Regions from separate parts of the Homo sapiens genome. Here region 1 is linked to region 2. Evidence: fine-mapped expression QTL. Tissue or cell type: fibroblasts. Region 2 holds a variant in brackets; the other region holds the start of a gene. All regions are shown on one strand. Distances are between the middles of the regions.

Evidence for each region. PIP is the estimated chance that this variant, and not a neighbour inherited with it, causes the effect.
Region 1: it holds the start of FRMPD4, and the variant in region 2 is fine-mapped to the expression of FRMPD4 in fibroblasts (GTEx, PIP above 0.99).

What each region holds. Positions count from the first base shown.
Region 1 is chrX:12,137,018-12,139,780 of GRCh38, reverse strand. It overlaps FRMPD4 (FERM and PDZ domain containing 4), which reads right to left and starts at 1,308. Exons shown (of 17, transcript NM_001368397.1): 1 at 769-1,308. The coding sequence starts at 809.
Region 2 is chrX:12,418,574-12,421,336 of GRCh38, reverse strand. All of the region lies in intron 1 of FRMPD4 (FERM and PDZ domain containing 4), which reads right to left. Among named protein-coding and RNA genes, the nearest start is that of FRMPD4-AS1, 45 kb to the right of the region's middle. The variant A/G (reference allele first, on the strand shown) is at 1,560.

The DNA.
Region 1 (2,763 bases), 280 kb after region 2:
GTGGCTCAAACGAAGACTTTGGAAGCATAAGCAGGGCAGAAGACCTGGAGGAGTGCTCTGGCCAGGCAACACCTAGGCGGCCCAAGCGTGGAAATGTTCCTCTTTTATCAGTACTACCCAAAAATGTCTGAATCGATGATTTAGTTTTAGCTACTGTTTTAACAACATGGCCACTTAGAAGAAAATTTCTAAATCTTTCGAGGCTTAAGAATATAGTTACCCCCCCCCCAAAAAAAAAAAGGCTGAAAGTCTTTCTCTTCTATCTACATGACTTCGCCATCTAGGTTACCGTTGGGAGCACCTGGTCAATCTAGGAGCTGACTTTGTGGAGGTGTGGAGGTGTAATTTAGGAGTTGGGGGAAGGCGGCACTTTTGGTCTTTGCAGCTTGGAAGGCAGGCACCCAAGCTCCAAGCACTTCTGGGTTTCCCTAGCAGTAGCAATTACAACCATCTTCTCTTAGCCCTGAATTATACATGGGACCCCAAACACCGCTGGGGCTTTTCCTTAGGGAAAACAAACTGTCGTGAATGTCGGTGTGTTGGTGAGGGCATGTATGTACCTCTCTGTGTGTGGTCTACACCCGCCGCTACACAAGCCTCAGCAGCCAGTGAGAAATAAGTTGAACGTGGAAGCCCCCGGCCACTTCGTTTGTCTTAAGCCCCGTCGCGCTTTCCAGCTTTTGCCTCTACCCAGCCTCCCGAAAAATAAGGCACCAAGTTGCCCGCGGCAGCGGCCCTGGGTGCAAACGGAACCCGCGCAGCCCCTACCTCGAAAGCTTTGCAATCTTCACAAAGCTGAAGACATCCATGCAGGCAGCTGGGGACCCCCGAGCGCGACAACTCCGTCGCCCCTTCTCACGCCAGCAACAGCAGCCTCCGCAGCCCCATGGCCAAGACCTCAGTGCGCCCGGGGCTCGAGTCGCGGCGACAGCGGGTGGCGGCGGCGGCCGGAGAGAACCTGCACCTGGAGGCGGCGGCTGCTACCCCCCTCCGGCCGCGAGCTGCGTGTGCATCCCCGAGCAGGACCATTGATAGGCACCCGAGGCAGGAAAACTCAATGGAGAGGGAGCCAGGCAGGGCGCAAGAGGCGGGGGCGGGGAGCGCGGCCCGGGTCTCGCGCCCCGCCCCGTGCGCTCTAGCCCCGGGGACTGCCGGGCGTCCAGAGAAAGCGAGGCCTGGGCGAGAGGCGCTGCTCTGGCTTCCCGGCCCTCGGACCCTCGTGCCCCACGCACCGAGGAGCGCAGACGGAGCCGGGAGACGGCAGGCGAGCTGGGCACACGCGCACGCACCCCTCGCAGCACTGCAGCTGCCTCCCTGCCTCCTTCTCCAAGCCGAGTCCCTGCTCCTCTCCCCACCCCCACCCGCCCGGGGGGAGGGGGCACTCTCCTGTCACCCACTGCGTGTGCCTCTAGATCTGAAGGATCTGGTCTAACAGTCTATGGCACACTGGAGAACTGTGAACGCTACCCCTCCCTCCCCAAGCCGAAGGAGAGCCGTGCAACCGCAGGTTGCTCAAAGCCTCGGTTTGCTCCGTAAACAAAACTAGCGTTCGGAAGGAGCAGGGATGATTGAGGTTGGGTCGTTTGTCAAGGGGAAGGGAAGGGAGATGCCAGGCGCAGCGGGCTCGATTCGGGGAGCTCAGAGTTCCCACTGCTTCTCCCGAATCGCTGGGGCGAGACGTGACCACTGGGCTGGCTGGGAAGGTGTGTCTTTGGACAGCAGCACCGCGGGAGTGTCTGCCAAATAAGAACCGGAGGCATTTGCGGGTAGGGGGATGAACACAGCTGCTCCCTCCTCGAGGAGCATAGAGCGGAGGGTCCCAGGAGCCCGTGATGCGGAGGCTAATTCTAACCGGGCTCAGAATCTAAGGAAAGAGAAGGATTAGAATGGGGTCTGCCACGCAGAGCGAGCTGCTTTTGCACACTGAGCCTTGGGTGAAGGGAACAGGGAAGAAAAAAACAAAACAAAACAAAACCTTGCCGGAGAAGCAAAAACACAGAAACATAAACACTCACCTTAGGCAGAGTAAACTCCAAGTTGCAGCCATCTAGAACTCCTCCTAGCCTTCTCTTTTACATAATTACCTTGGATAATCAGCCCTGTTCATTAACTCAGTTCTACCTCCTGGGAGGCTCAGGCTTCATTGGGCCCCTTTTTCTTCTTCCTCTTGAAGTCTCAAGGCCTCTTCTCCACAATCCTTTAAAATTTCCCCCCAGACTGTGAAGGTCAGCTGGCCGCACTAAGTGTGTGCTCTCCCACCGGCAGCGTTCACCTGGCGGCAGGGCCACCGCAAAGAACAGAGAGCACCCCCAGAAATGTTGGAAGATCCAGCCAGTGTTCCAGTCTAGCTCTCCGAGGGGATTAAGAAAGAAATAGGTTTAAAGTTCCCACACTTCTGCTCCTCTCCTGGTCTGTTGTTATATTTAAAGTCTTCAGTATTCAAGCCTAGTACTAAAGCGTTTTTTTTAAGCATTTATTTCAAAAACTGAACATAAAATAAATAGCAATCTGCAAAATCTAAATGACTTAAAACTCAGGCATAAAATTACATGTTTTTGAATACATAGTTATCAGTTTTCCTGCAGCTTCTATTAAACAGGCTAGTTTAATTGCATGAACGCAGTTACTACTCAAGGATCGGAAGGGGCGAGAGGGACCTTGGCTTTTGAACTCTATTGTTTGTAAAATAATTATAGTTTGGGTCTGCACTGTGCTTTATAATTTTTAAAGCTTTTTTTTGCATTGGAGTCTCATCGCAACCTT
Region 2 (2,763 bases):
TAGTTACATTGTCTCACAGATGTGACAAAACAGTTTTCTAAAAAGGATTATTTTGTCATTAGGGTTTTTATAAGTAAAGGTCACATTTGACATAAAAAAATGGAATTACTTTTGGTGACATACTTCTTAGGACAATAACTTTTGATCAGATGTCAATTCCTCACACCCCACCCTCCTCATATATAGATAGAAGACTTAACCTGGTCAATGTGTTGCCAACTCCCATTGCCAATCAGGACGCAGATAGTCTTTCATGCAGGCAGTAGGTGAAATTATATCCATGTCTTCGAACACCTATAAATGCTATATTTTTGTAAGCACTGAAATCACTGCCTTTCTGTGCTCAAGCCACCTGTGATTGTTTGACAAAGGAAAATCAGTAAATCTGCTCACCTTTAAAGTGAAAGATAAATTGAAAAGAAATACGAATTTCCTCATTCGACAAATAGGTACGGAGAGATTGTGGTTAAGTGATGGAGCTGGAAAAGGATGCTGTGAGGATTCTATGACATGTAAGAGAGACAAGGCTGCTGCCCTTCTGAAGGTCACATCAAACATGCGGTTACATGTGTGGATTGACAAACGCCATCACAGAGCACACATAGGGTGTTACAGAAGGCTAGATGTGTGTCAGAAATCTAAACTTGAATATCAACGACCGGTGTTGAGTTAGTCAGCACTGCCTGTGTTCAGGGTAAGAAGGTGTAAATGGGGATGGGGCAGGGATGGTGGCCCAGGATGAAGGATGAAGGATCAGCATGTGTGAGGGGCTGAAGGGGAGAGCCCATGGCAGCATGGAAGCCCTTGGAGCCAGCACAGAATGCCGAGGGAGGGCAGGTGATGAGAGATGCAGCAAGTGAGGTGAGAGGTGGAGGGGACAAGTGTTTCAGGGCCTTGAAGAAATAGTGAATTGATGAGCTCTGTGCCTTGGAAGGATGACCCTGGTGGCACAGTGGAAAACAGGCTAGAAAAGAGCCAGTTAGGAGACTACTGCCATTAGTAGAGACAATGGAGGCCCGGGTGGGACAGTGTTAGAAGTTAGAGAACAGCAGATTGTTTTGAGGATTCAGGACACTGATGACACAGAGCTTGGAGATTGCTTGGATATTGTGAAAGACAGTGAGGGTTTAAGACAAAGGAAAGAGTCAAGAATGGTTTCCAAACTTCTGGTATGGGCAACTAGACAGAGTGTGGGCCATGAGAATAGAGATGAAGGAGCAGGCGTGATGGTGACATGATAAGTTCAGGGCGTGTTAAATTATAGGTGCTGGTGGAATAGGCAGGTAGAGGTGTCCCAGCAAGCTGCTCAGTATTTAGGTATGAAGATTGGCAGAAAGATCTGGGCTGAACACAGCTGTCACCAGCCTAAAGACGGTAACGGAAAACAAAGAAGCATGGAGTGTGGGAGGAGGTGAGGGCCCCACAGGTCGTTAACCTTTAAGGTTAGGCAGAGGAAGAAAAGCCCATGAAGGAGATAAAGGAGGAGGAGCCAGGGAGGTAGGAAGAACACCAGTAGTGTACATGGTGTTCCTCTCTGGACTCCTGTAAGTCAGAGGAAA[A/G]GCATTTCCAGAAGAACGGTCAAGAACAGTGTGAATGATTCCCAGAAGTCTAGTAAGGACTTGCCCTTGAATTTGGTGTCCTTGGAGCAAATAGGTTCAGTGAACTGATATGGGCAGAAGCCAGATTTGACTGGGTTGGGGAGTTTTAGACCAGCACTTCTCAACCATTTCACCCTCAGGACTCCTTTCCACTCTGAAACATTTTTGAGGACCCCCGAAGAGTTTTTGTGCATGTTGCTTACATCTACCGATATCTAATATACTAGAAAGTAAAACTGATAAATTATTGAAATATTTTTTATGTATTTAAAAACAACAATTCTATTTCATAAGTCATATCTTTTTATAAAACATAACCATATTTTCCAAAACAAAAACATTTGGTGAGAAGAACAGCATCTTTTTACAATTTTGCAGATAGATCTCTTTAATACATTGCTCGACAGATGACAGTGGGTTTTTTCTATCGGCTTCTGGATTCAATCTGTTGCAGTACTATAGGAGACAGGATGCTTTGTCCGAGACAGGAAAAACAACTTATCTTCCACCCTCACAAGGGGGAGGAGGTGATGTAGTATGTGGATATGAGTAAATCAATAGGTTTGGGGGCAGGAGGTTGAGGGACTTTTCATCCAGTAGATTCTACTTTCCCTGCAAGATAGTATCATGATACAGGAGGAGGGAGGGGTCAGCAATTTTAAAAGCATAGGGAATATTAGAGCATAAATAATCAAGTCATTCTTTCTTATTAAGAAATCCAATGAATAAAGTCTCCTTGGATAAACATAACCCATGACATGAAATACCAAGAAAGGTATCTGGGGTGTTAGAAAATTGTGAGGCCTTCTGGGAAACTGAAATTCATGAAGAATTATTTAAGAAGAAGAAACAAAAATAAATGTAACATCTTTGGCCCTTCTGGAGAAAAGCTGAAGAAATGGTGGCTGTTTTCCGCTATTTATAAGCTAGCAACAAGGGAATTATCATAGGATGCAGCAAGAAAGTTCAGTTACATGATTATGTCTGGGTTCTGGGTTCAGCAGCAGTTTTCTTCTATGCTTATCTCAACCTTGTCACATAGAAACAAATTTTATTTACACTTAGAAATACTGATGGATGTGGCCAGGTGCGGTGACTCACGACTGTAATCCCAGTACTTTGGGAGGCTGAGGCGGACGGATCACGAGGTCGGGAGTTCGAGACC